Regions from separate parts of the Homo sapiens genome. Here region 2 is linked to region 1. The links come from fine-mapping of genetic effects on gene expression. A gene starts in region 1. The other region holds a variant in brackets. All regions are shown on one strand. Distances are from middle to middle.

What was found. PIP is the estimated chance that this variant, and not a neighbour inherited with it, causes the effect.
Region 2: its variant is the best candidate, but not a certain one, in a credible set for the expression of KCNQ1 in whole blood (TOPMed, PIP 0.76).

The regions. Positions count from the first base shown.
Region 1 is chr11:2,442,929-2,447,311 of GRCh38, reverse strand. It overlaps KCNQ1 (potassium voltage-gated channel subfamily Q member 1), which reads right to left and starts at 2,304. Exons shown (of 16, transcript NM_000218.3): 1 at 1,828-2,304. The coding sequence starts at 2,213. TRPM5 (transient receptor potential cation channel subfamily M member 5) reads left to right here and starts at 2,798. Exons shown (of 29, transcript NM_014555.4): 1 at 2,798-2,881. RefSeq lists silencers at 2,315-2,384, 2,395-2,504.
Region 2 is chr11:2,477,640-2,482,022 of GRCh38, reverse strand. The region is part of intron 1 of KCNQ1 (potassium voltage-gated channel subfamily Q member 1); the gene reads right to left. Among named protein-coding and RNA genes, the nearest start is that of KCNQ1, 35 kb to the right of the region's middle. The variant G/T (reference allele first, on the strand shown) is at 2,000.

The sequences.
Region 1 (4,383 bases):
ACAGAAGCCATCCTGCCCCTGTCCCCAGAAGCCACCCCTGCCTTGCCAGCTCTGCGGAGGCTGGGCGAAGGTAGACTCTTGCTGAGCAAACTTCCGAGACCTAAACAATCCAAATGAGGAAGAAAACACAAGTGCAAGCAGAGACTTCCTCTGGGGCGTGGCGAGCCCTCTTCCTCCTCTTCCTCCACACGGGTGGCTGCAGTGAGCCCGGAGGCATGTGTCCACAAACCTGAATACAAGTGAGAATTGAGGGGGTCTGCGGGCACTTTGCCTTGGCCTCTGGCTGAGGAGGTCTTCCCACCCTTGGACATCTCAGAGAGTCTGGGGTCCGGGAGGCAGGTGGCCACCAGCACACAGCACCTGTGAACCTGGCATCTGCTAGACATTTGCACAGTGGCATCGGACTGGGTTCCCCTGGGGTCACTGCACACAAATATCTCCCAAACCCCAAGCCGAGCCCCCGCTGTTGCAGCCACGAGCAGAGCCAGCTCCTCTCACAGACCAGCAGCGGCTGTGGCTCAGGCACCCACTGACATGTCAGGAGACAGGGGCTTGGGAGCTGGGGTGGGGAAAAGTCTCCAAGATCACCCCCCAACCACATCTTTGAGGAGGGAGGTGGGTAAGACTTCCCCTTCCTGATGTGGAAGGCCACCTCTTAGCAAGGAAGGCAGTAGCCCTGCGACCCCTACCCCACCCCCTCACCTGAGACGATGCTTGAAGCCATTTGGGGCCTGGCTCCTGCTGTCACCCGCCCTGAGGCCCTGGTGGCAGCTGCCAGCAGGCATGGACAGGCCTCTGGATGCCCTCCAGCCAGTTCTCTACTGAGCCTGCCCGAGGCAGAGGAGATGCTTCCACCTGAGGACGCTCAGGGAGACCACCCTTCAGCCCTCAGGTGAGCCCCACAGCCATCAGCCATGGGATGTCTGGGTAGAGGCTCCCAGGCCAGAGGCTGGCACCACACCAAAAGGCCGCTGGCTGGGCAGCCAGGAAGTAGGGCCACTGGGGCAGCGGGGGAAGGCCCCAGGCAGGCATGGAGGAGAGCAGCCTGGACCTTCCCGGAGGTGACTTCCCAGGCCTGTCCCTGAGAAATCCAGTGCCCAGCCCTGCTCAGGCACGCTGTACCGGGAATTGGAACCACCTGGTAACAGGGGGGCCAGGTGCCTCTGCTACCAGCGCTGCTTTCTCCGGGAGCACAGCTGCCTCTTAGTGAGAGCTGCAAACGTGCCTCTCCGCTCTCTGCATCAAGCCAGGTTTTCATGAGCTTGGTTCAATTAGTTAATGTGGGGCCCGTGGGGACGGCCCGTGGCATGCTGAGCCCTCAGGGAGCACCGCCACCGTCACCTTCCTATCCTGGACAGCCCCCTGCCCCAGAGTCCACCTGGGCCTCAGGGGGTCTGAGATGCGGCACCGGACATCAGGGGCCTTCTCTCTTGGGGGCTCCTGAGCCTCGAGTCTCAGCCGACCTTGAGGAGTTATCTTACTGCACCCAAGGGTGCGCTCCCCAGCACGCTTCTCTTCCCAGAAGGATTCACACCTGGACTACCCTCCCGGAGGTGTGGAGCCAAATTCTGGGCTCCAGGTGGTCCCCTCCCCAGCCGGCTCCCTCCCCACGCCGGGCCTGCGAGAAGATGCGCACCCCCAGACACAGCAGCGCCTCTGAACTTCAAGGGAGAGTGCAGAGTTTGTGTTTCTGCGTTTCCCCACTTCCTTCCCTCCTCTGCTCCGGGGTCGCAGCTCCGACGGGGCAGGTGGCGCTGGGACAGAGCTCCCCCACACCAGCTCTCAGGAAGCACCTTCGTGCCGGCCGTCGCCGGTGGCGATACTCACACGGCGAAGTGGTAAACGAAGCATTTCCAGCCGGTGGGACGCTCGAGGAAGTTGTAGACGCGGCCCTGGACGTGGGTGCGCGCCAACACCGGGCGGCGCGTGCTGTAGATGGAGACGCGCGGGTCTAGGCTCACCGGCGGCCGCGGGCCAAGGTCGGAGGCAACTGGGGGCGCGGCGGGCGCGGCCGGGGACGCAGGGGGCGCGGGACCTGGGGCGCCGGGCGCGATGGGCGCGTAGAGCGCGCCGCCCGCCGGGCCGCCCTCCGCCAGCTCCAGCGAGAAGGGGCACTTCTTGGCCAGGCCCGCGCTGCCCCGCCGGGCGCCTGGCAGGCGGCCCCAACCCCAGCGCTTCCTCTCGGCCCTGGGCGGGGAGGAGGCCGCGGCCATAACGAGGAGGGCCTGCCGGGGGGCCGGCCCGAGCGGCGGCACCGGGAGCTGCAGCGAAGGCGAGCGCCCGGGCGCAGTGCGGGCAGCCACTGCTGCCAGCCCCGCCGCGGGGGGCCGCTGCCGGCCCAGCCCGGGCGCTCGGGGCGGGGCCGGAGGGGGCAGTGGCCGAGGGCCGGTCCCATGGGACGGCGTGCCCCGCCCCCGCCTGCACGCCCCGCCCCCGCCGGTCCGGCGCGCACAGGGCGTCCCTGCCCGCGCCCACCGGCTTGGCCCGCCCTCTCCCCACGGACCGGCCTGGCCCTGCCTCCGCCTCACCCCCTGGCTTGGCCTGTCCGCGCCCCCGCCCCCGCCTGCGCCCCCGCCCCCACCCCCACCCCCGCCCGAGCCCACCTGCTTAGCCCCGCTCGTGTCATCTATCCCGCTTGGCCCCGCCCCCTCCTCGCCCACCTGTTTGGCCCCGTTCCAGTGTGCATTTACCCCGCCTGGCCCCGCCCCCTCCCCGCCCACCTGCTTGGCCCCGCCCTCACCCACCTGCTTGGCCCCGCCCCGTCTGCATCTCCCCTGCTTGCTCCTGCCCTGCCCTCACCCACCTGCTTGGCCCCCACTTCTGATGCCCGCCTGCTCTGCCTGGCCCGGAGGAGGACCCCAGCTGCGCCAGGGAGGAAGGGGTAAGGCCTGGCCGATACCACGACCGAGAACGGCACAGCGGGGGCAGGAGGGGCGGGGTAGGGTGCCGGCATCTACTTTCCCTCCCTCTGAGCCACTCCGGAGTTGGGGTTGGGGGGAGGAAAGGGATGTCCTGGGTGAGGGTGTGCTGGCCCCGCGATCACTGTGAGCGCCCCCGGGTGCCCAGGCGCGCGAGCTGCGGGCGGCGAATACGCTCGGGTCGCTTCCCACCAGGGCCCTTGGACCGGGAGGGTGAGATGGGACCACCACTGTCAGGTACCTCCCAGTGGGAGCTGTGTGGGTGGGGAGCCGGCAGGGCTGCTGGGGGGTGGGGGCGGCACAGCCGGGGTCTGGACCTGGTTTGACTGCCGGGCATAGCAGGCGGGGCTGCCTGGGCAGTTAAAGGGAGAGGCGCTTGCGCCACCCTAGTAACTTGGAGAATGGGCGCCTTGTCCTCCCCACCGTCGAGACCGCGCTGCCGCTGCGCCCCGTGGATTCCCCTGGGTGGGGGTGGGTTGGTCACATCGGAAGATTTTCACAGGTCTCTGCACTGCCTCCCGCCCGCTACTGGCATTTGGGTCTCAGCACGTCTCAGGCTTGGGGGGGGGGTGGGGGGCAGCCAACAGAAGAGACCGGCTTTTTTCAGGATACTGCACACAGCCCTGAGGCAGGGACTAAAGGTGGAGCTCAGCGGTGACTCTCCGCCCCGCCAGGAGACCCATAACTCATGTGACACTTCCAGGTCGTCCCTGAGCACCCTGGGTCAATTTGATGTATCTACCACCCCCTGCCAAAAGTCTGCTCTTTTATCGTGGACGGAGTCCAGCCCAGGCCCTTGACGCCTGACTCCCCACCCTAGTGAGGTGCCACACAGGAGTGCACAGTCTGTATTTGCAGCAAGAGTGGATGGAGTGGGTCCCAGCTTGTGCTGGGCGCTGTGATAACACAAGGGAGGCCGAGGAGAGGGTACCTTCCTGGGAAGCATATCAGTGAAGGTGCAGAAGGGCAGCGGGTCAGAAGATGGGGGCAGTCAGTCAGCTCTGCAGGGCACACAGCACGCATTCAGCAGTTACTTTCCGGGTGAACATACATACACCTGCATGGAGTCTCTGCCTTCCCCTCCCACCTCAGCAGGAGGAAGGTGAGCTTTGAATAAGCAGCGTTTGGACAACTGGACAGTCATAAAGAAAGAAAAAGCATACCTTGGGTCCATCTCACCGCACACGAGAATAAATCTCAAATGAATCAGAGGCTCAAGTGTAAAGGGTGAGATGAAGCCATGCAAATTCTACAAGAATGTACAGGTCAATTCCTCAAGAACCTGTGAATCGGGAAAACATTTCCAACTATGACTTGAAATCCAAAAGCAACAGATAAAATAAGAAAAATTAAAATAGAAGCACCATTAGCAAAGTAAAGGAGACAAATGACCAAATGGGAAAAGTATTTGCAGTTTCGATCACAAAGGATTAATATCACTGATACATAAAGAACATCAAAACTG
Region 2 (4,383 bases), 35 kb before region 1:
GATGGCCGTGGTCCCCAACCTTTTTGGGACCAGTGACTGGTTTCATGGAAAACAGTTTTTCCACAGACCAGTGGTGTGGGTGGTTCTGGGATGATTCAAGCACATTACTTGCATTGGGCACTTTATTTCTACTATTATTACATTGTAATATAGAATTAAATAATTATACAACTCACCATAATGTAGAATCAGTGAGAGCCCTGAGCTTGTTTTCCTGCAACTAGACAGTCCCATCTGGGGGTGATGGGAGACAGTGACAGATCATCAGGCATTAGATTCTTATAAAGAGGAGGCAACCTAGATCCCTCACATGCATAGTTTGCAACAGGGTACACACCCCTGTGAGAATCTAATGCCGCCACTGATCTGATAGGAGGCAGAGCTCACGCGGTAATGCGAGTGATGGGGAGTGACTGTAAATACAGATGAAGCTTCACTTGCTCACCTGCCACTCACCTCCTGCTGTGCAGCCTGGTTCCTAACAGGCCATGGACTGGTAGTGCTTCATGGCCTGGGGGTTGGGGACGCCTGGCTGATGGCCACACAGCCTCGGGGAAGCAGCCTAGCTGTAGACGTGCAACTCACTCCTGACTGCACTGTGTGTGTACACGCCCTTAACACACACACAAAGACCAAGTAGAAACATGTGCATGCACGCGCGCACACACACACGCCGAGAAAAAGACTAGCAGGAAACTAAAAGCTGGCATCTCTGGCTTTTGGTACGATGAGTCATTTTACTTTTCTTCTTTAAAAATTTCTGCACGTTCTCTGATTAACATTTCTGAACTTTACAATCAGAAAAACTGATCTACTAAAAGCATTTTCTTATGTCTGGTGAGGAGTAACTGGAATTGTCATCTGCTTTGGATGAGAACTAGTGACATCACACATCGCATCAGTTCACTGCAGAAGAGACCACCACCCGTTCTCGTGGCTATGAGTGAAATCCAACATGATGTGGTAATTCTCTTCTAACTTTCGATTTATATGATTTCATTTCAAACTTATAGAGAAGTTGCAAGAATAGCAGAAGGAACTCCCAAACGTGCTCTGCTTAGACTTGCCTGCGGTTTCTACACTGCCCCCGTCCTGCTCCATCCTGTCCCTCTCCAGACTTCCCTCTTTTGGTTGAATCTTTCTGAGCCCTTGGAGACACCATGCCTGTTTTCTGCTAAACGCCTCCTCATGGATTTCTTAGGAATAAGGGTGTTCTCTTCTGTAACCATGTGGTACTGTTGTCAAAATCGGGAAACAACACTGACATGCACACTACAGGTCTCTATTGCACACTACAGTTCTCTACCTCACACTCTCACATCATCAGCTGCCCAGACACTGGCTATTGCAGCCATCTCTTCCCAGACAGGATTCAACTCTGATATGGTTTGGCTGTGTCCCCACCCAAATCTCATCTTGAACTGTAGCTCCCATAATTCCCATGTGTTGTGGGAGGGACCCAGTGGGAGATAATTGAACCATGGGGGCAGTTTCTCCCATATTGTTCTCGTGGTAGTGAATTAAGTCTCATGAGATCTGATGGTTTTATAAGGGGGAACCCCTTGCACTCTGTTTTCATTCTCTCTTTGCCAGCTGCCACGTAAGATGTGCCTTTGCTCTTTCTTCATCTTCCGCCATGATTGTGAGACCTCCCCAGCCATGTGGAACTGTGAGTCAATTAAACCTCTTCCCTTTATAAATTACCCAGTCTCAGGTATGTCTTTATCAGCAGCATGAAAATGGACTAATACAGTAAATTGGTACTGGGAGTGGGGTGCGGCTGTAAAGATACCCAAAAATGTGGAAGCAACTTTGGAACTGGGTAAGAGGCAGAGGTTGGACAGTTTGGAGGGCTCAGAAGATGACAAGAAAATGTGGGAGAGTCTGGAACTTCCTAGAAACTTGTTGAAGGGCTTGACCAAAATTCTGATAATGATATGGACAATGAAATCCAGGCTGAGGTGGTCTCAGATGGAGATGAGAAACTTTTTGGGAAGTG[G/T]ATTAAAGATGACTCTTGCTATGTTTTAGCAAAGAGACTGGCAGTATTTTACCACTGCCCTAGAGATTTGTGGAACTTTGAACTTGAGGGAGATGATTTAGGGTATTTGGTGGAAGAAATTTCTAAGCTGCAAAGCTTTCAAGAGGTGACTTGGGTGTTGTTAAAAGCATTCAGTTTTGAAAGGGAAACAGAGATAAAAGTTCAGAAAATTTGCAGTCTGAAAATGTGATAGAAAATAAAAACCCATTTTCTGAGGAGAAAGTCAAGCAGCCTGCAGAAATTTGCATAAGTAACAAGAAGCCAAATGTTAATCACTAAGACAATGGGGAAAATGTCTCCAGGGCATGTCAGAGACCTTAGGAGCAGCCCCTCCCATCCCAGGCCCAGAGGCCTAGGAGGCAAAAATGGTTTCCTGGACTGGGCCCAGGGCCTCCATGCTGTGTGCAGCCTAGGGACTTGGTGCCCTGTGTCCCAGCCGCTCTAGCCATAGCTAAAAGGTGTCAAGGTACAGCTTGGGCTGTGGCTTCAGAGGGTGCAAGCCCCAACTCTTGGTAGCTTCCATGTGGTGTTGAGCCTGTGGGTGCACAGAAGTCAAGAATTGAGGTATGGAAAGCTCTGCCTAGATTTCAGAGATGTATGGAAATGCCTGGATGTCCAGGCAGAAGTTTGCTGCAGGGGTGGGGTCCTCATGGAGAACCTCTGCTAGGGCAGTGAGGAAGGGAAAAGTGGGGTTGGAGCCCCCATGCAAAGTCCCCACTGGGGCACTGCCTAGTGGAGCTGTGAGAAGAGGGCCACTGTCCTCCAGATCCCAGAATGATAGATCCATCAACAGCTTGCACCATGTGCCTGGAAAAGCTGCAGACACTCAATGCCAGCCTGTGAAAGCAGCCAGGAGGGAGGCTGTACCCTGCAAAGCCAGAGGGGCAGAGCTGCTCAAGACTATGGGAACCCACCTCTTGCATCAGCATGACCTAGATGTGAGACATGGAGTCAATGGAGATCATTTTGGAGCATTAAGATTTAACTGCCCCACTGGATTTCGAACTTGCATGGGGCCTTTAGCCCCTTCGTTTTGGCCAATTACTCCCATTTCAAATGGGTGTATTTATCCAAGGCCTGTACCCTAATTGTGTCTAGGAATTAACTAACTTGCTTTTGATTTTACAGGCTCATAGGTGGAAGGGACTTGCCTGGTCTCAGATGAGACTTTGGACTGCAGATTTTTGAGTTAATGCTGAAATGAGTTAAGACTTTGGGGCACCGTTGGGAAGGCATGATTGGTTTTGAAATGTGAGGACATGAGATTAGGGAGGGGCCGGGGTGGAATGATATGGTTTGGCTGTGTCCCCACCCAAATCTCATCGTGAATTGTAGCTCCCATAATTCCCACGTGTCATGGGAGGGACCTCGTGGGAGATAATTGAATCATGGGGGTGGTTTCCTCCATGCTGTTCTCATGGTAATGAATAAGTCTCACGAGATCTGATGGTTTTATAAGGGGAAACCCTTTGTGCTCAGTTTTCATTATCTCTTTGCCTGTCATCATGTAAGATGTTCCTTTGTTCTTCCTTCATCTTCTGCTGTGATTGTGAGGCCTCCCCAGCCATGTGGAACTGTGAGTCAATTAAACCTCTTCCCTTTATAAATTATCCAGTCTCAGGTATGTCTTTATCAGTAATTTGAAAATGGACTAATACATAACATAGTGGAATCATAGACTCCCACTTAGGCATCACATTTCTTCCTTCCCCTTCACCCTGAACGGTACTTTATTTAGCCTTCTACGTTTTTTGGCCCTGGCATTTTCAAAGTATTCAGGCCACTGTGTGTGTCTCCCTCCATGTGGGTTTGCCCTGTGTCTCCGGATGATTCGACCCTGGACAGCTGTGTCTTTGGCAGGAGTTCTGCTACCGAGGCTGTCCATCCGGAGGGTGGTGAAGCTGGCCTGTCCCATTCCTGGTGATGTTAACTTGGATCACTTGGCTCGGGTGGTGTCGCCAGCTTTGCCTCTAGAAAGTGATTCTTTTTCCTTTGTAACTAGTAAGTGGTGGTGGGAGACACTGAGACTACAACCACCAGCTCTTTGAACCCCTGCCCCTGCCACGGGGTTTCCTTGATGGCCTTCCAGCCCTGTTGATTCTAACGTGAGAACTGGATTCCTTTCTTCCACTTATTTGTTTATATACATGGGTGTGTCCCTGTGGATGCATAGATTCTTTTTTCATGAATTATAATCCATTACCACTGTTGTGTGTGCATGTGTGTATGTATGGTCTTTTTTTTTTTTTTAATAAAAAGAGATGGGGTCTCACTATGTCACCCAGGCTGGTCTCCTGAGCTCAGGCAATCCTCCCACCTTAGCCTCCCAAAGTGGTGGGATTACA